7 linked regions of the Homo sapiens genome follow. The protein of the gene in region 6 interacts with the protein of the main gene of each other region in a pairwise test. Each region holds a gene or a part of one and is shown on either strand. Other genes may lie near its edges. The genes, in order: NOTCH2NLA, LASP1, EGFL8, PRUNE2, IDH3G, HSPD1 and ATAD3A.

Region 1 (3,500 bases), on a different chromosome or scaffold from region 6:
ATGAAGAATGTTCCTCCTTTTCTCATCTAATTTAATAAACACTTTTGAATAAAGCTCAGACCCACCTAGAAAAACCCACAATCTATTCAGGTGAGATATGTGTAAAAAAAATTACAATAAAATGTGATACATAAAACTAATAAAACTTAGAGACCATTTGCCTAAAGGAATCATGAAAGGGTCACTGAGACACAGTTTTAAATAACATTGGACAATCACCAGTTGTAGAAAAGGGCATTCCAGGCAAAAGGGTGTGTAACTGTATGGAAGCAATAATAAGTACAACATTTTCAGGAAATAAGGAGAATTTGGTGTGACTAGGCCTAGATGCTTGTGGGGAGGCCAGGCTATAAAAAGATGTAAAGTCTAGGCTGTAGAGAGCTATGGAAGTCATGTAAAAGAGTTTGCAGTTTATTCTGCGGATGATGAAAAAATATTAGACATTGTAAGCAGGTGAGATTGTTAGAATATTTGCATTTATAATCAAAGATGTAGTAATATCATGGGTGAATGAGATGGGGAGAGAATAAAGGCAAGAAAACGTATTCAGAAACTACTTCAGAAGCCCAGGTGAGAGATAACATGGCCTTCAACTACAGGGTAGCAGAGGAAATGGGAGGAATAGACAGGTGAAAGGCAACTCAGAGGTTGGCTTGGGTGACTGAGTTGAAATGAGGTCAGAACAAGGGACAGGGAGTTTCTAGCGTGGGTATTTGGGATGTACATGGTTGCTACGTATTTCTGTCAACAAGGTGAGCTGAAAGTACCTGTAGAATATCTCCAAGGAGAACATACAAAGGATAACTAGAAACATGAGCCTGAATGTCAGGGTTGGGTGGAGCTAAGGGAATGATGGTGAGATTCATCAGCAAGCTAATGAAGACAGTGGCAGTGGAGGCGAATACAGACAGTGAAATTCCCTAGGGAGAGCTGTGATGTGGCTCAAAAGAGGGCGCAAAACAGTGCTCCAGGGAGCACAAACATTTAATGGATAAGAACAAGGTAATGAAGAAGCAAAAGGAACAGGGTTCAGAAAACCAGAAAAGCCAGTGCCCTGAATGTCTAGGGAGGGAGATTTCTAAAAGCAAATAGTCAATAACATCAGCAACTTTTCCTCTGGTGACAGTGTACTTATTTCTTTTAGTGAAGTAAACTCTGATTCCCCATCCTGGTGTACATATTTTTTTTTTTGAGACAGGGTCTCACTCTGTCACCCAGGCTAGAGTGCAGTGGTGCGATCATAGCTCACTGCAGCCTCAAACTCCTGGGCTCAAGCAATTCTTCCACTTCAGCCTCCCAAGTAGTTAGGACTACAGGTGCACACCACCACACATGACTAATTTTGTTTTATTTTTATTCTTGTTTTTTTGTAGAGATGGGGTCTTGCTATGTTTCCCAGGCTGGTCTCAAACCTCTAGCCTCAAGTGATCCTCCTGCCTTGGCCTGCCAAAATGCTGGGATTGCAAGCGTGCGCCACCGCACCTGGCCCTGACATATATACTTTAAGCAGTCAAAGTATTTGGTCCTTTTTCTTTCTCTTTCTCTGCCCCCTGAAACTCTTAAAAGGAAGTTAGGGATAGTTGTCTGGAACATCCCAGTTCCTTATCATAATGTTAAATGTGCACCAGAGCTGGGGGACATTTAAGAGCCAGACACCATGATCTAAAAGATGCTAAATAAAGGTATCTGCTGAAGGTAGGAAAGCACTGGCTTTGGTCTCATTAGTTACCTGTAAACCCGACTTGACAGGTGCACTCATAGGTATCCCGGCTGAGCATATGGCATGTGCCGCCATTCAGGCAAGGTCGAGACACAAAGCATGGATGAGATGTCGAGTACTGGCAGTCCTCTCCTGTAAACCCTGAGGCACATCGGCACGTGGCTTTCCCCAGCATGGCCTGGGCCACACAAGTCCCACCATTCTGGCAGCGGTTCTTCTCACAGGGGTCTCGATGTTGACAATATTCCCCCAAGAAGCCTTCTGGACATCTGTATGGAAAAGAGAAGAGTCCATGAAAACACCTGACTTCTTGTAAGTCCAAAAAATTACAGTAAAACAATACAGTCCAATCAAGAAAGCACGAGATTGTGAATCAACAGACCTACAAGGACCACCTATAAAACTGCTTCCCTTTAGAAGAAAGAGTCCTTAGAGAACTTAACCACATACTCCCATGTCCTTTTGAGTCCTGGCAGGTGACAGAGTATCAGGTGTATGGTCTAGCAGGGTCTGCCATGGCCAGTCAACATGACCCTTATTCAAACGCAAAATGCACCCCAGCTTTTTTTCATGTGTGTACAGGTTGGGATGGTGTAACAGCACCTTTTTTAGAGCACTGTTCGTACTTGTCTGCTTAAATTCATTAACTTTCTCATTTTGACTAAGCCATTTGATAGGATTAAGATGTCCACAATATAATGCATGAACTTGACCCTATTATCCCCTCCAATTTAAAATATGTAAGATATCATGTGCTTTTCCTCAATTAAGCATTGAGAAATAGTAAGTGCTTCTTTCTCTTATTTCCACTGAAACATCAATTGGATGATACCTAGTTTTCTGGGTTATGTTCAGGTGGCTGACATTACAACGGAAAAAGGGAAAGGAGGTACAGGAATGGGGAAGAGTTCAAAGGGATATTTAAAAATCTGTTAATATTTAAGTAGGCATTTTTAACCAAATAAAAAGACACAAAATATAATTAAAATAACATAAAATATCTAAGATACCATATAAACACCAAAGTCAAGGAAGGAATCAATTGAAGAATAACATTCTATGATATTTTCCACATTGAGGCACTGAGGAACCTTTTTACATGCCACCCCTTGATTCATAAGATGTACAACCATTTCAAACTGTGTGTATTATTTATGACAATTTTCTCTGAACAATATCAAAAAGGCATGGTAAGTCTCCATTTTCATAATGAAGTTGTTTAAATGGAATCTCTGAGAAGCATTTAAATTAAGAAACACAAACACTTTGATTCTAACTATAAATGCTGCTATATATTTGGCTGGTGCCCCAAATATGTGATTCAACTTATTCCTCGTTTTAGTTTTCAGGGACTAGAAAACTGAATCTAGTAGGCTGTTCCACCATTACCTCAAAGATTACACATTTAAACCAAACTCTAAATCCCCCTCTCAAAAACCAGCTTTTCTGTGCCCAAGCCTTGTTGTCCTGATTTTCCTAATCATTGTGACCTGAAACATTGGGGTCATGAGTGCTTTTGTCTTTGACAGTCATATCCAAGACCTTTCATTAACCATTGGTTGGCAAGGCTAGCTAGCAGGGGTCACAGTTACTGAGAAAAGAGGGAAGGCCAGATACTAGGGAACTAAGACAGAAAATGCCCAGAAGAATTGTGTAGTAGCTAAAATGGCTAAAGGAGAAAACAGGGTGGTGAATAGCTATAGTGGTAGTGAGGTAACTGGCCACAGCCTCTTCACCCCTCCCAGAGCTGCATAAGATAAGCATGGCAGAGCAAGGAGCG
Region 2 (3,500 bases), on a different chromosome or scaffold from region 6:
TCTCCTCCCAGAGGAAAAGGCTCCCTGTCACCCCATCGCTAATGCAGATAGCGTCATGTCCAGGGAAGCTGTCACACATTCATCTGGGCCCCCAACATCAAGGACACCTGTCCCTGCAGGCCCCCTGCTGGCACCTTCGGGGCCCAGGGCAGGCCCCTGTCCATTCCGTGTCTGCACTTCCCTCCCTGGTCACAGGTTCTCAGGGGCAGGCTCTTTTCCTTAGCAGAAAGGAAACAAGGGAAGCTGACCTTTCCCACCTCAGAACAAAAGTTGGAAGGGCAGGTGCCTCGTGAGCCTGGAGGCCTCAGGAGGGGTGTCCCCTTCCCTTGTGCCCTCCCCGCCACCAACACCAGTGGACAGGGATCACTAAGAGAGTGGGGCTCGGGAGACTCACCTTCTGCGCTGGGTCTGTGAGAACATCACCTGGAGTGCCCCTCCCAGCGGATGCTGGGGTCGGTTGGATTTTCAGCCTGGCCAGGGTTGGCTGCCTCACCTCAGGAACAGGCTTAGCCTGTGCTGCCACGTGGGTGCCGGTCCTTGCTCTGGCCTGAAGGGAGGGGGCCGGGAAAGGAGGGACTGATCCTGACCCAAACCCCTAAGTAAACTGCCCTCTGCGTCCAGACTGGACTCCCCCCAGACTCTGTCCAGGCCCTTACCACTGCCCTCCCTGTGCCCCCAGCCCGGGCTGCAGGAACTATTGGCTGTTCAGCCAGCAGGAGCAGCAACCATGCAGGTGTTTCCAGCTGTTAACGTGTAAGCCCTGCCTGGCCACGTGCTTGCTCTTGCCTTTTGTGCACAGCCAGTGCCAAGGGGGAGAGGAGGCAGCAGAGACGTTGTGCGGAGGGGATGCCCAAAGGGGACTGCCCAGGCTGGGACAGCCCTGATGGGGCAGGGGCGTTCCAGGAAACAGCAGGTTTTGCCTCTCCTCCTCTTCCCACCCCACTACTCCCACCCCATTTTCCCGGATCAGGAAAAGGCAGGCCAGCATTCTAGGGAACAGGAAGTGAAGTTGGCTTCCAGCTAGGTGCCTGCCAGGGCCTGGAGGAAATTCCTGCAGGCCTGAGCCCGTCTGGGAAGGACCAGTTTCTCTCCTTGTCCTGGTGTCCTGCTTTCTGAGTTTCCCCTGAGGGTGGGGGAGAGCTGTCACTCTCTTCACTCTATGTCCCGCTTCCTCCCCCATCCTCATGGAGCACTCAAACCCTGAACCCTCACACCTTTCTATGGTTGTACCCGTCCCCACCAGTTTCCTCTCTGGAAAGTGAAGAGGAGGCTGGGCACGGTGGCTCACGGCTGTAATCCCAGCACTTTGGGAGGCCGAGGTGGGCAGATCACAAGGTCAAGAAGTTCAAGACCAGCCTGGCCAACATGGTAAAAGCCTGTCTCTACTAAAAATACAAAAATTAGCCGGGCGTGGTGGCAGTTGCCTATAATCCCAGCTACTCAGGAGGCTGAGGCAGGAGCATCACTTGAACCCGGGAGGCAGAGGGTGCAGTAAGCCGAGACTGTGTCACTGCACTCCAGCCTGGGCGACAGAGCGAGACTCCATCTCAAAAAAAAAAAAGAAAGAAAAGTGAAGAGGATAGAGCCCACTAGGGGTCATCAAGGTGTGGGACAGGCAGCATGTTCCTACAGGAAGAAAACTCTAACTCCTGGTTCTGGTTCTTTTTCATCTCATTCATTCATTCATTCATTCATTCATTCATTTGTTTTGAGATGGACTCACTCTGTCTCCCAGGCTGGAGTACAGTGGCTCGATCTCAGCTCACTGCAATCTCCGTCTCCTGGGTTCAAGTGATTCTCATGACTCGGCTTCCCAAGTAGCTGGGATTACAGGTGCCCACCACCATGCCTGATTAAGTTTTGTATTTTCAGTAGAGACAGGGTTTCACTGTGTTGGCCAGGCTAGTCTTGAACTCCTGACTTCAAGCAATCTGCCAACCTCGACCTCCCAAAGTGCTGGGATTAAAGGTGTGAGCCACCGCACCTGGCCATCTCATACTTTCACAATTCATTCTTTGGTGCAAGTTTTACAATATACATTCTATATTTGTCAAGTGATAACTTCCATGTAACTTATAAAATACACATAATTCAGGAAGATTGTGCTAAAATACATTTAACCAATAGGAGTATGCCGTCAGAATATTTTGGCAAACAAGGGTCACTAAGTTTTTTCTGTAAAGGGCCAGGTAGGAGGTATCTCAGGCTTTGTGGCCATATGGCCTCTGTGGCAGCAGCTCAGTTCTGCAGTTCTGCCATGAAAGCAGCCACAGATAAGAGGTAATTGAGTGGGTGTGGCTGTGTTCCAATAAAACTTTATTTCTGGAGGCTGAAATTTGAATTTCAGAGAAATTTCATGTGTCATGAAATATTATTCCTCTTTTGGTTCTTCTTCCCCCCCTCCACCGCCCCCTGCCAAGCATTAAAGAATGTGGAACCCGTTCTTAGCAGCCGGCTGTGGGCTGGATTTGGTCCATGGACCATAGATTCCCAGCTTCTGCTCTAGACCACCCGTTCTCAGACTTGAAGCCTGCTTCAGACTTACCTGGAGAGCTTTTTTCCAAAATGCATATTCCAGAACCCCAGCCCTGATTTTGTAGATTTTCTGGAAGGCCCCAGAACCCGCATTCTAACAAGGAGCCCAGTTGAGTCAGACACAGGTAGTCTGGAGTCCACTTTTTTTTAAACAGAGTCTCAGTCTGTTGCCCAGGATGCAGTGCAATGGCGTGATCTTGGCTCACTGCGACCTCCGCCTCCAAGGTTCAAGCAATTCTCGTGCCTCAGCCTTCCGAGTAGCTGGGATCACAGGTGCCTGCCATCATGCCCAGCTAATTTTTGTATTTTCAGTAGAGACGGCATTTCACCATGTTGGCCAGGCTGGTCTCAAACTCCTGACCTCAGGTGATCCACCAGCCTCAGCCTCCCAAAGTGCTGGGATTACAGGCGTGAGTCACCGCGCCCGGCCAGGAGACCACATGTTAAGAAGCAAAGCTCAAGGGTCTCCAGGATCCTGGTCTGTTCTCTTCAGCCAGTCCTGAGGCCTGGGGTGTGCAGTGCTGTGGGAGACCCCTGCATCAGAATAACTGGCTCCTTCACTACCTTCCAGGAGCTTCCATCCAGTGGGGGTGGGGGACACCACCCGCCAACAGCACAGCCCAGTCCCAGGTGCTATGGAAGCCCTGGGTTCAGCCTGGAGCCAGGGCCAGCGTCCCGAGGATGAGGTGCCGAGATGGACCTTGAAGGATGAGAGAAGCCTGGACTGCCCTTGAGTGGCGAGGGTGGGCTGCCTCCAGGTTGACCTTAATCCCTTCCCTCCCTACCACCATGTGTCCAGATGACCTTGGGCAGGTCCCTTAGCCTCTCTGGATATCGGGATATGACATTGACTACCTCAGAGACTTGTGGGGAGGATTCGGCGAGCTGATATGCATGAAGTGTATCAACTAGGGCTGCTGGCTGGTATCTCCTTCCCTTGTCTTCCCCCACCACCCCAGCCAGGG
Region 3 (4,221 bases), on a different chromosome or scaffold from region 6:
GAATCTCCTGCTTCAGAGCGCGCTCATCTTTTTCCGCCTCCCGAACTAGGGACAAAGGAGACCAAGAGTGTGACCACTACCCGAGCCCGGACGCCCGTCCCGAGTCCCTCGGGTGGCCCGTACTCCTGCCCACTCACCGGCCACGCTGAGTATGCTGGCACTGGTTGGGGGCTCTGGGGACCCCTCCATGCAGGTGCGCCCGTCCACGCCTAGCACTAGGTCATGGGGGCAGCCGCAGGTGAAGCTGCCTGCCGTATTAAAACAATGGTGCGAGCAGAGGGTGATGCTGGTCCTACATTCATCCACGTCTAGTTACCGAAAAAAGGAAGGGGCTGAGAGAGGGGGCGGGGGCAAGCACCTGGGTAGGTGGGGAGGACAAGCTGACTCACCCACATGACAGTGCTTCCCTCCCCAGCCGGGGGCGCACTCGCACTGGTCAGGCCTAACGCAGACGCCTCCGTTCAGGCAAGGCTTGGCGCAGATGGCTGAGGACAGAGGAAGTGGGGTTCAGACTCAAACCGACGACCCAGCTCCCCAGCTCCGTGGGGCGCGCCTCCCGCAAGGCCCGGAAGACCCAGCCTCACCTTCACAGGTGAGCGCCCCCGGGTGCCGCTTCTTCCAGCCCTGGCAGCACACTGCATGGGTCTGCTGAACCTCCCGCCTCACCTCCCGCCACATAACGCGGTACATGGTCCTGGAACACAGCGCCCGGCTCAGGACCCTGAGTACGGGTCCTAGTTGGGGTTCTTGGGGTCCCATCTCCCCATCCCTCACCTGTAAGTGCTGCAGATGCGCCTCCCAGCGCACAAGGTCAGGTAGGGCTTGTACACTGGTTGGCTGTAGGACTCGTTGTAGTGGAGCGGGACCACCAGTGTCTGCTTGGAGCAGACTCCCTGACTGCGTCCATGCCAGAGGATGAGGTGGGAGAGATTGAGTAGGCCAGGCCCTGGGGAGCCAGGAGTCCCACTTCCCTCAAGAGGCTACTGAGGCCCCCCGCTCTCCCTCCAGATGACAGCCTCTCACCCCCATTCTAAACTTACAGTTATGTTTTGCCTCCTGTGAAGCCCCACCCCCAGCAGAAGGCTCCTGAGAAGAGCTCACCCCGGGCCCTACCCCCTCTGTTGTCACCTCTCTCTGAGGGATCCACCCTTGGCCCCCTCGCCTGGTATCAGTAGCAGGAGGAAGGAGAATCCGCCTAAGAGAGTGCACAGCTCAGCCCTGGACCCCATGATTCGCTTTGACGCTGGACCCTACAGGCTGCAGGCAAGAAAAGGTTAATGGATGCCCGTCCCCTCTCCTATTAATTTCTCCAGCACTAGTCCCTCCAAGGGCACTCTGCAGGTACCCTCTAAGGGAGTCAGGACATTCACTTTTACATACTAGCCACCAGGATTGCCTACACCTGTGTGTACAACCCAACACTATCCTGTCCTTAGCATATCATGATCCTTTCAGCATCATAAAAGCTCACACCCCAGCACACTCCCTCCACCTCCCCTCTAACCTACTTACTTCTAATCCCCTCTGCACAACCTGGAGGGACACACAGTCAACCCTCCCCTTATGACCCTCCTGTCTTTTTTTGGGTTTTTTTTTGTTTTTGTTTTTGAGAAGGAGTTTCGCTCTTACTACCCAGGCTGGAATGCAATGGCATGTTCTTGCCTCACCGCACGACCTCCGCCCCCCAGGTTCAAGTGATTCTCCTGCCTCAGCCTCCCAAATAGCTGGGATTACAGGCATGCGCCACCACGCCTGGCTAATTTTGTTTTGTTTTGTTTTGTAGGGTGTGAGGGTATATAGCTAGGGTTTTTTTTTTTTGGTTTTTTTTTTGTTGTTGTTTTTTGAGACGGAGTCTCGCTGTCACCCTGGCTGGAGTGCAGTGGTGCGATCTCGGCTTGCTGCAAGCTCCGCCTCCCGGGTTCATGCCATTCTCCTGCCTCAGCCTCCCGAGTAGCTGGGACTACAGGCGCCTGCCACCACGCCCGGCTAATTTTGTTTTGTATTTTTAGTAGAGACGGGGTTTCTCCATGTTGGTCAGGCTGGTCTCGAACTCCCGACTTCAGGTGATCCGCCTGCCTTGGCCTCCCAAAGTGCTGGGATTACAGGTGTGAGCCACCATGCCTGGCCAACCCTCCTGTCTTTAACATGCCCTCTTATAACTTCATACCTTCAAAACCCTAGCTGGTTGGGCGCGGTGGCTCACACCTGTAATCCCAGCACTTTGGGAGGCTGAGGTGGGTGGATCATGAGGTCAGGAGTTCGAGACCAGCCTGGCCAAGATGGTGAAACCCCATCTCTACTAAAAAATACAAAAAATTAGCCAGGCGCAGTGGTGGACGCCTGTAATCCCAGCTACTCGGGAAGCTGAGGCAGGAGAATCCCTTGAACCCTGGAGGCAGAGGTTGCAGTGAACCAAGATCATGCCACTGCACTCTAGCCTGGGCGACAGAGCAAGACTCCGTCTCAAAAAAACAAACAAAACAAACAAACAAAAAAAACCCCTAGCTATATACCTTCACACCGTACACACAAACCAAGCACCTGGAAACTCCACACCTTTCACACACTGCTACTCCCCTCATATACCCACACCGTCACATAACGCCCTAAATGCACATCCCTTGCTCCAACAAAACACCCCGCAACTCATGCCCACCCTAAGGCTCTGAGTAAACCCCACTCTTTCCCCATTTGAAATTCTCTCCCCACTTGCCTTCCTCTCTCTCTCCATTCCCACCTGGCTTCTTTCTCCTGGGAGGCTTCAAGCAGACCAGCCTCAGCAGAAGCAGCTCAGACTGGTGGGTGGGCCTGGCAGGCTAAGAAGGAGAGGAGGGGCTGGGCCAGAGAGTCCTCCCATTCCTGCCCCCTCCCACAAGCCTCCTCCTTAGCTCCAGCAGGGTCAGCTCAGTAGGGTCAAGTCCCACTACCCTCATCCCCACCCCAGCAAAGGGCTCCCTAGAAGTATCTTTCCAACCCTCTGAGGCCCCTATTTCTGGACTCCCCAGATCAGAAGCTATGAGCTCTGTAACACCACCAGTACCCCCTTGAACCCAAAACAGACTAGGGGAGAGTTAGGGGGCAGGGAGAGAACCAGCTGCAGGGAACAAAGCAGTTCAGGTTATGGGAGAAAAAGCAAGATCAGCTGAGGAAAGCTAGAAGGGCAAGTCGTCACAAAGGGGCAGGGGGGCAGCCCAGGGCACCAAGGGGAAAACTGCCCCCCTCTCTTCATGACATTTGTTAGGGCTTAGGGGGAACAGAATTGAGTCAGCCACCACCCCCCATGCCAGAACAGACAGGGCCCTATTGTCTCAGCCAAAATTCCTTCTTTCAAGGAAGAGGAGGCTCATTGTCCAGCCCTACACCCAGCTCTGGCCCACAAAGCTCAAAAGCGGCACAACGAATGCCCACCCTGACCCTCTGCCCCCTCGTCTAGCCTGGGGGTGGCAGGCGCATTCCACCCATGAGGCTGAGGCCCAAACCACTGGAGCCCTGAGCTTAACCCCCCAGTCTTGGGGACTGGGAGAGGAAGAGAATTGTCTTCAGCAGGAAAGAACCCGCAGAGAACCAGGAACCCACAAAGAATGGGCATTGAGAGAGAGCGGAAACACCAAGGGGGTCCCCACCCTAGACCAGGCATCTGGGCACCCAGGCCTCAGGCTCCACCCCCACCCTCCTTGGGGAGCCAGGTCCCCTCCACCTGGAAATGAGCCAAGTCACACTGAGGAAATGGAACTTTATTTCCATAAATACAGGGATAACACCTATTCAAAGGTAGTTAAAAGAGGGCCTGGGGCCTCAAAGAAACTAGGCTCTCCCAGGGGGGTACTCCAACACTGATCATAGGGACTGGGGGATCCCCAAACCTGAGATGGGCCTCATAGGCCACAGATATTCCCCAACACTGACACTTCAAGAACGGAACTGTCCCCATAGGGGAGCCTCAGAACCCCACTCTCATGGGTAGTCCCTCTTAGGAGTTGGGAGGGCTGATGTCAGGGGACTTTAGAGAAAAAAGGGAACATGGGGAGGAGAGAAGCTAAAAATGTCCTGAGTGGCCTGGAAGGAGACCCCTGTGGTGGGCAGGGGGTGGGTTCTCCACCCATACAGCCAGATACGGAGGAGCAGCAGCAGCAAAAGCAGCCACAAGTTAAAAACATGGTTTCTCACTTCCCAACTTCGGCCTTGAGAGAAAGGGACAGCACGGAGCAATCCCCCAAATGA
Region 4 (3,500 bases), on a different chromosome or scaffold from region 6:
AGAGTCAGTAGGTGGCATATGAGGAGAAAAGGCATTTTTCTCATGCTTTCTCAGATTTTCAAAATGTGGCTTGCAGCTCTCAAAACAGTTTGGCAGCTAAGAGAGGCTGAGGCTGAAGGAGGGGAGGGAAGAAGCTGATTTGCAGCTGGTGAGTCATATTGCACATACTATGAACCTATTTCTATTTAAGAAGAGGCTTTCTTAATTTTCTTTTTTGCAGAATGGTCTTGATTTTGGATCTTCTGTTCTATGATCAGATTATGTGTCAGAAGATGTTTCCAGGTTTTTGTTTGGGAAACCACAGCTATCTCATTGTTTTGCTTCTGTGATTACCTTCCTGTCCCCATGGCTTCCTTCATAGTATTCATCCCAGTTCACTCAGCTAGCTTCTTACCCTCTTCTTTGCCTTTCCAAATTATGACCTTTCCTTTAGTGACTTTCATAAGCCCCTTGAGGAGTGCCTTCATAAGCCCCTTCTGTCATTAAAACATTTTTTAAAAATTTATTTTATAACTTTGTTGGTATAAAGACAAATCCACTTGAAAGTATAATAATTTTTTCTTCTGACTATAAAAGAAAATATTCTCATGGGCTCCTTAAAGTATCATGGGCCCTGGGCACTCTGTCTCCTGTGTCTGACAGAGAATAAGCCATTCCTGCTGCCTGCTCCATAAAGGCGCCCGAAACAGATATCTCTCCTCTTATTTCCTCACTTGTATAATTCTTGTCTCGCAGGGTTGCCCTATGTAAAGTGAAATAGCGCAGAGTGCTTAACACCTGGTCCAACAGCAAATAGCCTGTAGTTAGTACCCATTTTATACTTAAACTGACATTGGGCATTGACTAGCTTGACTTAAATATTACACTGCTATCTACCTTTTTACTTATGTCTAACTCTTTAGTTAAACTGTAAACTCCTAGACGGCTGACAGTATGTTTTAAACCAGTGGTTCTCAAGCTTTGGAGGGCATCAGGAGTTGCTGAAGCTCAGCTGGCTGGGCCTCACCCCCAGAGTTCCTGATTCCGGAGGTCTGAGTCGGAGCCGATAATTTGCATTTCTAACAAGTACTCAGGTGATACTGATGCTGCTGTTCTTAGGACCCCACTTAGAGAACCACAGTTTTAGACAACTCTTTATTCTCCCAAAATCTAGCACAGAGGGAGACTTACACATTCACAGTAAATTATTTATGCAAAAGATAATACACATGCCGGAGGGAAAATCTGCCCCATCCCCATTGTGAGAAAAGTTTCAGTACTACAAAAGCTGAGCAGAAAGGGATGAGCAAAGAAATCTTGTTGAAAGAAAAGGTGCTGGTGGCACAATTGAACACTGACTGTCATCTGTTGGATCTCGGGGCATGTGCAAAATGCACACAAGAAGCCAAACAATAGCTCAGCCAACTCATGGCTGCCTGAGTTCTGAGCTCAATCTATAACAATGCCAGCAGGGCTGCTGGGATCCATCTGCTACTCTCTTTCTGATAACGGATCTGGGGTCTCTCTGGAAGAAAATAGCTTGACAGGAAGAAAGAAGGATTAGGCCAGCTGACAATGTCTGGATTTATGAAGCTGCCCTGGAATATGGTAGAGCTTTTAACCCCTTCTGCACTTGGCTAATCCTCAACATACCCCAGCTATTCTTTCCATTGTCCTTGTTCCTTTCATCAAGAAATGTAATTTGTGAATGCCAAAGCTCCCCTGGACACATTCTGTTTCCACACAAATTAAGTTCCCAGAATTTAATACTGCAGGAAGCCTTGAGATCTTTCAGCCCAACTCACTAATTTTACGCATGAGAAAACCTAAGCCTGGGATTAATCCTAAAATGTATAATCAGTCATGGTAGAGGCAGGCTGGAATCCAGATTCCTTGACTCACTGTGGGTATGTGATGTGTATAGTCCTTTACACTCCCAAGCTGAGTAGCAAAAATATATCTTTTCTCGCTTTTTTTTTTTTTTGAGACGGAGTCTGGCTCTGTCACTCAGGCTGGAGTGCAGTCACACGATCTCGGCTCACTGCAACCTCCACCTCCCAGGTTCAAGCAATTCTCCTGTCTCAGCCTCCCAAGTAGCTGGGATTACAGGTGCTGCCACCACCCCAGCTAAGTTTTGAATTTTTAGTAGAGACGGGGTTTCACCATGTTAGCCAGGGTGGTTTCAAACTCCTGACCTCAAGTGATCCACTCACCTTGGGCTCCCAAGGTGTTGGGATTACAGGTATGAACCACCGCACCTGGCCGATATCTTTTCTCTATTACATTTTAAGGAGAAAACATGACTTTCCCCGTTACTTAAGTTACTTTTCACAATTTGTTCTTTTGTCCCTGGAAGCAGGTGGGCTTCATAAACACAAATGAAGAGAAATGAAGAATGCTAAACAGTTTCAGCAGAGACTGGAAGCTTGAGGGCAGTGATGACATCCTATTCCCTGATATATGCCCATTGGCTACCCAGAACCACGGCACAGAGCAAGCTCTCAAAAACCACATGGTGAATGAATGAATGAATGAATCACTGATTTAATGACAGTTTGCCAATTTCTCTGCCAATTAGGGAATGAATGTGTTACACTGAGATTTGGAGACTGCTGTGGAGCCTGTCTCTTATCTAACTATAAGTTAGGTGCTTACATAAAACCAGAAAATGCCTTGTATTTGAAAATATGAAAATGCCTCTGTATGCTAAGCGGTGTGTCAACTGAGAAAGTACAGGCTTTGGAGGTGGCAAGCTTCGAATCCCAGGTGTTCACTCTGGTTACTTAATTCTAGGCAAATTATAGAAAATTTCTGAGCCTTGAATCCCCCTACTCAACCCTACTCCTTCCATTCCCCCCACTGGCATGTTAGGATTAAATGAGATAATGTATGCAAACTGCCTTGCACATAGTAGGTGCTGATTAAATGTTAGTGTCACTTCCTTGTATTCCCAACTGCCTGTTGAAGAGTCATGTAGGTATTCAAGTAGGTGGGGTGGCAGTTGGGGGGTAGGTATAAGACTGAATGAAAATTGAAGGGGCTTTTTGGCTGAAAATGTACATAAATTATCATTATGGTTATAGTTATCTAGTAGCTGCTTTTACTGATGGTGTGCCTTGCATTCAATATAAGCAAAGCTGCTATCATCCAGGTATTCCTCATATTCCATAACCTCTAACCATTTCCCAGGTTTCTAAATAAATTGCTTTTCAGGAAAAAAAATAAATCTAGCTTTTTGCTTACCCATTTGGTCTTGATATCCTGGTTCCGAGCTCAAGGAACTCTGTCTCCTCCTCCATTTCCGTGTCAGGGATCATGTTTTTCTGAACAGGCTGTGGTGAAAGCATTTCCCATTCATTGTCATGGGTGACAGCCTGCAACGTAACTGCATCCGGGCCAGCCCTGCCTCGGCTCTTACTCTTCTGTGATTGGCTGACTGGACCAGAGGCTTCCTCTAGTGCCAAAGATTCTAGAGGCTTCATTTCTTCCAGAATCTGCAGCTGGGGACCCTCACCCAAGCC
Region 5 (3,054 bases), on a different chromosome or scaffold from region 6:
GTGCAGCAGGTGCTCCATGAATAACCCCTGAACGACGGAATGAACAAGTCAATAAATGAATAAAGGCTGGCAACCAGCCAGGCAGCCATGCCATTCTCCATCCAGGCTCTGGAGCAACAGAAAGTGACCACTCTTTACTAACAGGTTGGCCGGCCAGGCTGGAGCTAGCAAGGTGGCCTTGGCGGTGTTACTGCCAAGCCCCCGCATCAAGGCACCACACTCAGAGGCAGGCGGGGGCTGCCTGGAGAAGGCCACGGATTGGCCGGACCCTACCCTACGACCCAGGACACCTGGAGGAAGGGAAGCAGAGGCCAGTGGCCGCTGGAGACAGCAGTCAGAGGGCGCCAAGCAGAGGCCGCCTGCTGGTGAGCGGTACCCCACCCAGACTGCTCCACTCACAGCGCGGGGGTCCCCTGTGGCTGGCACAAAGGCCCCTCTACTTGACTGCCAGGGCCTGGGGCTCCCCCTGGGTTCATCTTTGCTCACACGCTCCTCACACAGTGCAAGTAATGGGCTGAGTGTGCAAAATGAGCAATGGAAGTAGTTTAAGGACCTCAAGTGAAGCCCCAAGAATCCCTGCCTGGGCTGTGCCATCCACCTCCAGGCTGGCTGCAGCCGAGGAGCCAGGCAGAGGGTCGGAACTGCATCTCTGTGATACCTGGTTTGTGAAGAAAGATGCTGAGGGTCAAAGCTGACCCCAGCAGAGAGGACTGTCTCAGGAGGGAAGGAGGGGTGGGAGGGAACCCATCAGGGAGCCCGTCACTGGACAGGCTCACACACAGCTGCTCTCACTCGAATCCCAGCATCGCAGCGCAAACAGGCCCGAGGAGGCGTCCACCCAGTCTCCAAGCACGAGGGTCCTCTCTAGCCAGACAAGCCCTGAAATCAGAGCCGTGGGGCCCCACAAGAGTCAGCTCAGAGGGAGGTAAAAGAAATCACAGGGGCTGGGCACGACGGCTCACGCCTGTAATCCCAACACTTTGAGAGGCTGAGGCGGGCAGATCACGAGGTCAGGAGTTCAAGACCAGCCTGGCCAACATGGTGAAACCCACTCTCTACTGAAAATACAAAAATCAGCTGGGCGTGGTGGCGGGCGCCTGTAATCTCAGCTACTCGGGAGGCTGAGGCAGGAGAATCGCTTGAAACTGGAAGGCAGAGGTTGCACTGAGCCGAGATCACACCGCTGCACTCTAGCCTGGGCGACAGAGCGAGACCCCATCTCAGAAAGAACGCAAGAAAGAAAGCAAGAAAGCAAAAAAGCAAGCAAGCAAGAAAGCAGGAAAGCAAGCAAGAAAGCAAGCAAGCGAGCAAGTAAGCAAGAAACGAAGGAAGAAAGCAAGAAAGAAATCACACCTAGGGCCCCATCCTGGCCCCTGGCCCTGGAGCTCACCCTTCAGGGCCACGCGGTTCCGGCGGATGGCCATGATGGCATTGCGAATGTCCTCTTCATCAGCATTGGAACTCACGTGCACCTCTTCAAAGTCCACTGGTACACATGCGTGCCTGAGGCACGGCAGGGTCAGGGAGGCTGGCCCAGACCCCCCCGCACCTCCTCCAGGAAGCCTGCCCAGGCTACCTCTCTCCTGTTGCTACCTGCCCTGACCTGGCTCTGACTGAGAAGGGACTGGGCCCACCTTCACTGACTGATGGGGACACGCTTGAACTCCACAATGCACACTGTGGCAGGACTGGTGCCACCTTCCCCGAGCCCAGGCCAGTCTGGCGGGATCACAGGCCATGGGACGCAAGGCCTGGGCTTACAGGTCGTCTTGCCATGGCCTCACCGAGTGCTTCTGGGCGCAATGCCCCTCTTGGCACAAAGTCCTCAGGGCCCCCTGGCTGAGGACAAGGCGGGGACCCAGGAGCTCCATACCTGAAGACGGACTTGACATGCAGCATGAGCTCTGGCCCGATGCCATCCCCTGGGATCATGGTCACCGTGTGCCGCCCGCCATACTTAGCGGACGGAGGCTGTGGGAGGCAGAGGGTGAAGGTGGGCCTTCGGGGATCCCACATGCCCCCAGCTCGGCCCCCATGGGCTCAAGCCAATTCCCTTCTTCCCACTGGCGCTGACCCCACAGGCTGCCCCGTCACAAGGTGCCAACTTGGGGCAGCCCCGTCCCAGACAGGGCTGCTCATCCAGGGCTCCTGGGTCAGCAGCAGCCCACCCCCACCTGGAATTTAGTTAACCCCAAAGCAACTAAGAGCCCCCCAAACCTAACAGGCAGAGAAGAATACTCACAATTGTTTGTTCCTAGAAAGGATGAGAAAGGAAGAAGACACAATCAGCCAAGGTTCCAAGAGCAAGGCCGTGACCAGGAAAGTGGGACCTTTTCCCAGGGGGATGCTGGCTAGTACAACTCCCAGAAGAGGGGTGGGTAGCCCCTGGAGACCACGTCTCAGAGGACAGGACACAGGCCGTGCACACACGCGCACAATTGCGGCCACATGGAGAAAGACACATGCGTGGGCACGGGCAGGTACTTACTGAAAAGATGTTCCTCGAGGGGACCTCGTGGGCGCCTAGAACCTGGCAGAGACCAAATGCCAGCGGTTGGTTTGATGTCTAACCCAGAAAGCCAAGTTGGAAGGAAAAACGGACCGTCCCCACTGTGCCCAGGCAGGTCCCCTGTCTGTGCAGCATGGCCCACTGCCAGGGGCACAATAGATAATTAGCTCCAAAGCCTCAGTCCCCAGGGCCGGCCCGCTGGAGCACCTGGAAAGTAGAAGGCGCTCCAGCCTCCTGCCTCCTTCCGCTCTTCAGAAAATTTCTTAAAAGGCGTGTCCCTGCCCTCCCTCCTCTTTTTTGCTTCTGATTATTTTTTTGGCCAGTTATTCCCGCTCAGCGATGTTTGTAACATGCAAAAACTGGCAAACTAACCCTGGTACAGCAGGGAAATCATTACAACAAACCACAGATCCATGACAACAGTCACGTTATCACTTCGCCGATCACTTTTTCTTATTACAAAAGCAGCATGTGGTCGCTACAGAAAAAGCAGAATAGGGAGATAAGAAGGTAGCACCCAGCCTCCGGCCTCCCTGAGACAAGCA
Region 6 (3,500 bases):
ACACTCGTCTTGAATAGGTAATAAGCAGTGGTATTTGTTGATTTATATTTCTCGGTGAAAGACAGAATTATTTGTATTGCTGTTTGCAGTTTCCATCATGTGTACCTCCACATTTGATCCAGTTGGGTTTGTATCTAGAATTGTAATTGTGTAAATCAGGTGTGCTCTAATGTATCCTTATGGTTGTGTTTTTGAAGGAACCCCAAAGTCTTTACTATTTTGATCAGCTTTCTCATAGAATAGACTAATTTAGCACATGGGTACCTTTCTGTATTTTGCAAGTGTTTACAGTTGTTTTGAAGGCACATGACTGAATCTTGTATTTTTTTTTTTTGAGACAGAGTCTCACTCCCTGGCCCAGGCTGGAGTGCAGTGGCATAATCTTGGCTCACTGCAATCTCCATCTCCTAGGTTCAAACAGTTCTGCCTCAGCCTCCCAAGCAGCTGGGACTACAGGTGCGTGCCACCACACCTGACTAATTTTTGTATTTTTAGTAGAGACAGGGTTTCACCATATTGGCCAGGCTGGTCTCAAACTCCTGACCTCGTGATCCGCCCGCCTCAGCCTCCCAAAGTGCTGGGATTACAGGTGTGAGCCACTGCGCCCGGCCTTGTAATTTTTTTATTTTTTATTTTTATTTTTGGAGACAGAGTCTCTGTCACCCAGGCTGGAGTGCAGTAGTGCAGTGGCTCAATCTCAGCTCAAGCCTCCGGGGTTCAAGTGTCAATCTTGTTTTTTGTTTTGTTTTGTTTTGTTTTTTTAAGGTTTTTCTGGTTAAAAATATGTAAATTTTCAGAATATTATTTTGCATAGAACAGGGAAGTAAACAACTAACTTCCAAATAACTCAGAGCCAGGCATGGTGGCTCACAGCTATAATCCCAGCACTTGGGGAGGCACAGGCGGGTGGATCACCTGAGATCAGGAGTTCCAGACCAGCCTGGCCAACATAGTGAAACCCCGTCTCTACTAAAAATATAAAAATTAGCAGAGCATGGTGGCGTGTGCCTGTAATCCCAGCTACTCAGAGGCTGAGGCAGGAGAATCACTTGAATCTGGGAGGCGGAAGTTGCAGTGATCCGAGATTGTGCTGCTGCACCCCAGCCTGGGCAACAAAGCGAGACTCTGTCTCTAAATAAATAACTCAGATGTAAGTGTATTTCACCATCGAATATTTTTATTTATTTTGAGAGACAGACTCTGTCACCCAGGCTGGCCTGCGGCGGCACGATCATAGCTCACTGCAGCCTTGAACTCTTGGGGTCAAGCAATCCTCCTGCCTCAGCCTCCCAAGTAGCTGGGACTACACACTTGCACAAGCACACTTGGCTGATCTTTTAATTTTTTTGTAGAGACGAGGTCTCAATATGTTGCCTCAATATGTTGCCTAGGCTAGTCTTAAACTGTTGGTGAATCTTAAGTGATTCTCCCACCTCAGCCTCCCAAAGTGCTGGGATTACAGGCATGAGCCACTACCCTTGGCTGTGATCAAGTATTTAGTCTGTTGTTAAATGTTTACTAAATAGTCTGAAGTAGAGAAAATAGCACCCAATCTAAAATAAGGTGAGGTCTAGTCACTTATTTAAATCTACATTTTAAGCTATAGTTTACTATTAGTTTAAACTTTAAGACAGGTAATGTTCATGCTGCAGACAATCTAAGGGCATTATTAAAATGTTTGTTCTTCCTTATCTCAGAATTGAAGTATGTCAGAAGCAAGACTTTTCTTTCCATTTTGTTATAGTAGAAATGCATACATTAACAGGTACGTTTTAGACATTACACGTGCTCATCTGACCCAAAAGCTCTAATGAGCTGCCTTACCCTGGAATGTTTTTCTTAGCTTGGATTTGCTTTTTTGGAGGGATTAAGAAAAGACTTGGCTGGGCGTGGTGACTCATGCCTGTAATCCCAGCAGTTTGGGAAGCCGAGGCGGGTGGATCATGAGGTCAGGAGATGGAGACCATCCTGGCTAATACGGTGAAACCCCGTCTCTACTAAAAATACAAAAAATTAGCTGGGCGTGGTGGCGGGCTGAGGCAGGAGAATGGCGTAAACCCAGGAGGCGGAGGTTGCAGTGAGCCGAGATCTCGCCACTGCACTCCAGCCTGGGCGACAGAGCAAGACTCTGTCTCAAAAAAAAAAAAAAACACACAAAAAAAAGACTTGAGGCCAGAAAAAAACAAGCCTACAGAGTTTTCATTAAGCCATTTTACTGCTAGTTGAAAAGTGGGATATCCAGTTTACATAGCATATAGCTTATTCCTCTGATTTTTATTTGGGTCCTTAATAAAATAGACCAGCTGTCTTGAAGTTTGAACGTTGCTTCTGTTTCACAATCTGCTCTCAAATGGACATTTGATTACACATTCCAAGTATTCATTTACCTGGTAAAAATTTCAGGTGAGCTTAACAATACTGTCAGCTTTTTGTATAACATTTATAAAAGAAGTGAATTCAGAACATTGCTCATTCAAAACTCAGCATTAATATATGGAGATGTTTATTAAATGACCCTCAAATGTAATATTTAGTAATTACTGTTTTTCTACCATTCATAATAGTTATCACTGTATCCTATAACTTACTGTGATGTGATTTTTGCTGCTCGGCCTCCTGAGTAGTGGGGATTACAGGTGCCTGCTACCACATTTGGCTGATTTTTGTTATTTTCAGTAGAGACAGGGTTTCACCATCTTGGCCAGGCTGGTCTCGAACTCCTGACCTCGTGATCCACCTGCCTGGGCCTTGCAAAGTGCCGGGATTACAGGCCTGAGTCACCACGCCCGGCCAGGCCAACAGTTTATTAAGAAGGTAAACGGATATGGACAAGTATAATTAATAGAAAATAGCCTAAACTGTCTCAGATACTTCCTGTCTTAATTTGATCAAAAATTGCTAGGAAGCAAAAAAAAAACAAAAAAACACAAAAACCAAACCAGATTACTTAGGGAGTCCTAAGTAATCTAGTAACAGCTTGAGGGGAATTAAACAGATAGGCATTTTTATTTCATTTAAATCTTACTATCAACTATTCTTAACAGGCTAAAGGTTGGTCTTCAGGTTGTGGCAGTCAAGGCTCCAGGGTTTGGTGACAATAGAAAGAACCAGCTTAAAGATATGGCTATTGCTACTGGTGGTGCAGTAAGTAAAATAAATGTGATAATGGTTTGCTGAATGTTTATACTTGTCTGGAATTTATAGATAGTTTAACATTTCACAATTAGATACTACAACTATCTGTTTCTTTTGGCTCTTTGGAAGGTAGGGGTTGGATTAAATTCCCGTTAATTTGCCACAAGTCTGGCCTAAGAATGAGCTTACTGACTATTCTATATTGACTAAATCTTATTGACTGAATAAGGGGGTTTCCTTTTTTTTGTTTTTTTTGGAGACAGTGTCTTGATCTGTCTTGACTATTCTTGACTTGATCTATATTGACTATTCTTATTGACTTAAATCTGTGGGGTTTCTTTTTTTTTTTGAGACAGGGTGTCTTG
Region 7 (3,500 bases), on a different chromosome or scaffold from region 6:
CCCAAGTAGATGGGATTACAGGCATGTGCCACCATGGCCAGCTAATTTTTTGTATTTTTAGTAGAGACGGGGTTTCTCCATGTGGGTTAGGCTGGTCTTGAACTCTTGACCTCAGGTGATCCACCTGCCTCAGCCTCCCAAAGTGCTGGGATTACAGACCTGAGCTACTGTGCCCAGCCAGCCTAATTGATTTTTAAAACGAGTTAGAGATTTTGGGTTAGTCTTGTTTTCCAGGAATAAAGTACCATTTTTAGTGGCCAAGAATGTACCAGAGGGTGTGGCCCTGTGACATCCGGCTGGGTCTGTCCAGGGCCCCGCTCAGCGACCGAGGCTTTCTAGGATTTATGCTGCCAGTTGCAGAGAAAATGGCCCTGAGTGAGGGCGCTGTGACTGCCCCACCTGCCTCCTGTAACCGCGTGGCTGTGGGATTCGGGGCCGGGAATTCGCGTTCCTGTGGGGCCAGTGCACGGCCCTGTGCTTCTCCCTCGGGCGGAGAGAGGGTGGGGGCAGCCCCGTGCGTCTCCTGCTCTAAGAGGGAGGGACGGTGGGGGCCGGTGCGCCAGTGCGGTGTCTCTGCTGCAGGTGGCTGGGCTGACGCTGCTGGCTGTTGGGGTCTACTCAGCCAAGAATGCCACGCTTGTCGCCGGCCGCTTCATCGAGGCTCGGCTGGGGAAGCCGTCCCTAGTGAGGGAGACGTCCCGCATCACGGTGCTTGAGGCGCTGCGGCACCCCATCCAGGTAGCAGCGCAGGCCTGGCCCTCCCTGAGTGCAGTTCCTGGCTGAGTCCCTTCTGCCCCACGAGCACAGCCCACGCACACCCTCCCGTCCCTTCCCTTTCCCCGGATAACGGGCACCCGCACACTGCTTCACGGGTGGGTTTTCCTGTCTGGCGCTGTACCTTAGGGGTCTGCATCAGTGAGACCCTTCCCCTGTCTGCCTCGGTGTCCCCTGCTCAGGGCTCTTGATGGGGCCTGGGAGCACATCGGGGTCCTTGCAAGACCCGGGACTTGGGTGTGCGGCCGTCTATCAGGGAAGCTGCTACAGGCCACGGCGTCTGGTGGCCTCCCTGGGGAGCCGCGCCGCTCGCCGCCCCCGAGGTGCCTGCTCTCCACAGGTCACTGGGTAGGTGGTTAAGAAAATAAAAGCCAATAAGGAACCGGAAAATGCCCCTAATCCCAGCAATAGCCGCCTGGTCTCCGGGCGGGGCAGGGTTCCAGCTCCGGGCCGGTCCTGGCTGTGCTTTGGGGCAGCTCCGTTTCTGCGTGTTACCGAGCGTGTGTGTGCGCGTTGGTGGCTGTTCCGTGGCTGTGGCAGGTGACCCGATGGCGCTTCCCCTTCCCCTCCGGCAGGTCAGCCGGCGGCTCCTCAGTCGACCCCAGGACGCGCTGGAGGGTGTTGTGCTCAGTGTAAGTCGGTGTGCCTGGGACCGGGGAGGCGCAGGGAGGGGACCCTGGAGCTGGGCCGGGCTGTGGCCCTTGCTGGCGCTCGTGGTGGCACCCAGGAGCTTTTGGGTCCTGAGATGCGACTGCTTGGACCGTGCTGGGGATAGATAGGCTGCCCCTGAGGTGGGAGGCTTCCCGAGGAGCCGAGTCTGCACCCAGGCATTCCCGCAGCCCCTTCCCCTGAGGCTTCCATGGGTGCACAGTGTCTCCTCCAAACCCCCGTCTTCCCCGGCAGCCCAGCCTGGAAGCACGGGTGCGCGACATCGCCATAGCAACAAGGAACACCAAGAAGAACCGCAGCCTGTACAGGAACATCCTGATGTACGGGCCACCAGGCACCGGGAAGACGCTGTTTGCCAAGGTGAGAGCGCCTGGCTGAACAGGTGGGCCAGGGGCCGCTGGGGTCTCACCTGCCTGCAGGTGTCTGGGGGGCTCAGCTGCCTGGGGAATGGACCCCCCTTAGGCCTTTGCCCACCCTCGTGTAGGCTCAGGGTGCTGGTGTGGGCAGCAGCGCCTCCCATCTTCCAGGCGGGGGACGTCTCCTGTCTGGCAGGCTGTGGCTTCCAGGCAGGGACGCTGGGCAGAGCCTCCACACTCCGGGTGGAGTGTGCAGGCTTTGCAGAGGCGGAGGGAACATCTGCTCTGTCTCCCCTCACTCTTCCTGTCCAGAAACTCGCCCTGCACTCAGGCATGGACTACGCCATCATGACAGGCGGGGACGTGGCCCCCATGGGGCGGGAAGGCGTGACCGCCATGCACAAGCTCTTTGACTGGGCCAATACCAGCCGGCGCGGGTGAGACGTCCCCACAGCATGCACCAGGCCCTTGGCTGCGGCCCAGCAGGCTGCCTTCTGGGAAGGGGGTCCAGGTGTCTCTTGGGGACCCTGTCTTTCTGCAGCTCTGTCCTTGTGGCCACGCAGGAGGCCCAGTGGAGGGTCCCTCGGAGGGAAAGTCCCCTGAGTGTGGACCCTGGTGGACACGAGGCCCCCAGCGTGTGGAGGCTGCCAGTGGGATACTTGGCTCAGGGCAGAAGGGAGGTGGGTGGGTGCAGGGGGAGAGGAGTCTTCACAGCTGCAGGGGAGGCTCCTCCACAGCCGCCCTCCCCCCAACACGCCTGCAGGTGGGCGTGGGCACTGGTTGCCTTTTCTAGAACCATTTGAAAGTTAGCTGAAGACAGCATGGCACACTCCCTTCAATAGGTCCCACAGTGACCCCGCGCAGGGCACAGCCCGGGCACCCTTGTGGCCTCGGCTGTCCTCGTTGGAACCACGATGCTCATGGTTGGCACCCTCCCCTCTGGCCTTTGACCTTTCACTTTAGAAGACCTGTCCCTGTCGTGGACTCTAAGCGGCCACCAGTGCTGCACTGGGCCGGGTGGGGGTGAAGCCTGTGGGGCGGAGTTCGTCGCCCCCGTGTGTGGTTGGTTTCCCACGGCCTTCTGAGGCTGGGCCGTGGTCAGCTGCCCAGAGGCCAGGCTGATCGGCTTCTGTCGAGTCCAGGACTTAGGGCTGCTGATGGGGCAGAGCCTGACCCCGTGGGGATCTGCCTGCTTGGCCTGCTCCTGCCGCGGCCGGACGCTGCTGTGGGCTGCTCCTGGTGTCACTCTCGCCCTGCTTGGCCTCCCTCTCGTTCACAGCCTCCTGCTCTTTGTGGATGAAGCGGACGCCTTCCTTCGGAAGCGAGCCACCGTGAGTGTCACTAAGCCTCTGGCCACAATGGGGTGGTGGGGTGGGCACAGCCGTCTGCCTGGGCCAGGCTGCAGCCCTCTGTTCAGTTTCTTTTTCTCTGTAAGCTTTGTGTGAAAAACAGCTTTTTTTTTTTTTTTTTTTGAGAAGAAATCTCGCTCTATCACCCAGGCTGGAGTGCAATGGCCCCATCTCGGCTCACTGCAAGCTCCACCTCCCAGGTTCACGCCATTCTCCCGCCTCAGCCTCCCAAGTAGCTGGGACTACAGGCTCCCGCCACCACACCTGGCTAATTTTTTGTGTTTTTAGCAGAGACGGGGTTTCACCGTGTTAGCCAGGATGGTCTCGATCTCCTGACCTCGTGATCCTCCCG

What was found.
Region 1: the proteins of HSPD1 (region 6) and NOTCH2NLA interact in binary tests that used the Homo sapiens proteins (3 or more experiments, as listed by UniProt).
Region 2: the proteins of HSPD1 (region 6) and LASP1 interact in binary tests that used the Homo sapiens proteins (3 or more experiments, as listed by UniProt).
Region 3: the proteins of HSPD1 (region 6) and EGFL8 interact in binary tests that used the Homo sapiens proteins (3 or more experiments, as listed by UniProt).
Region 4: the proteins of HSPD1 (region 6) and PRUNE2 interact in binary tests that used the Homo sapiens proteins (3 or more experiments, as listed by UniProt).
Region 5: the proteins of HSPD1 (region 6) and IDH3G interact in binary tests that used the Homo sapiens proteins (3 or more experiments, as listed by UniProt).
Region 7: the proteins of HSPD1 (region 6) and ATAD3A interact in binary tests that used the Homo sapiens proteins (3 or more experiments, as listed by UniProt).

Annotation. Positions count from the first base shown.
Region 1 is NC_000001.11:146,163,022-146,166,521, forward strand, and holds part of NOTCH2NLA (notch homolog 2 N-terminal-like protein A), read right to left. Parts: intron 1,990-3,500; coding exon 1,730-1,989; intron 1-1,729.
Region 2 is NC_000017.11:38,908,058-38,911,557, forward strand, and holds part of LASP1 (LIM and SH3 domain protein 1), read left to right. Parts: intron 1-3,500. UniProt on the Homo sapiens protein: Plays an important role in the regulation of dynamic actin-based, cytoskeletal activities.
Region 3 is NC_000006.12:32,163,174-32,167,394, reverse strand, and holds the start of EGFL8 (epidermal growth factor-like protein 8 precursor), read right to left. Parts: upstream 2,801-4,221; 5' UTR 2,738-2,800; exon of another isoform or gene 2,714-2,737; intron 1,258-2,713; 5' UTR 1,230-1,257; coding exon 1,129-1,229; exon of another isoform or gene 898-1,128; coding exon 775-897; intron 695-774; coding exon 585-694; intron 486-584; coding exon 390-485; intron 309-389; coding exon 138-308; intron 46-137; coding exon 1-45.
Region 4 is NC_000009.12:76,700,115-76,703,614, forward strand, and holds part of PRUNE2 (protein prune homolog 2), read right to left. Parts: coding exon 3,223-3,500; intron 1-3,222. UniProt on the Homo sapiens protein: May play an important role in regulating differentiation, survival and aggressiveness of the tumor cells.
Region 5 is NC_000023.11:153,788,322-153,791,375, forward strand, and holds part of IDH3G (isocitrate dehydrogenase [NAD] subunit gamma, mitochondrial isoform a precursor), read right to left. Parts: intron 2,531-3,054; coding exon 2,489-2,530; intron 2,255-2,488; coding exon 2,243-2,254; intron 1,972-2,242; coding exon 1,874-1,971; intron 1,504-1,873; coding exon 1,391-1,503; intron 1-1,390. UniProt on the Homo sapiens protein: Regulatory subunit which plays a role in the allosteric regulation of the enzyme catalyzing the decarboxylation of isocitrate (ICT) into alpha-ketoglutarate.
Region 6 is NC_000002.12:197,489,841-197,493,340, reverse strand, and holds part of HSPD1 (60 kDa heat shock protein, mitochondrial), read left to right. Parts: coding exon 1-17; intron 18-3,044; coding exon 3,045-3,144; intron 3,145-3,500. UniProt on the Homo sapiens protein: Chaperonin implicated in mitochondrial protein import and macromolecular assembly. Together with Hsp10, facilitates the correct folding of imported proteins.
Region 7 is NC_000001.11:1,522,162-1,525,661, forward strand, and holds part of ATAD3A (ATPase family AAA domain-containing protein 3A), read left to right. Parts: intron 1-582; coding exon 583-738; intron 739-1,349; coding exon 1,350-1,406; intron 1,407-1,677; coding exon 1,678-1,803; intron 1,804-2,111; coding exon 2,112-2,236; intron 2,237-3,078; coding exon 3,079-3,130; intron 3,131-3,500. UniProt on the Homo sapiens protein: Essential for mitochondrial network organization, mitochondrial metabolism and cell growth at organism and cellular level. May play an important role in mitochondrial protein synthesis. May also participate in mitochondrial DNA replication.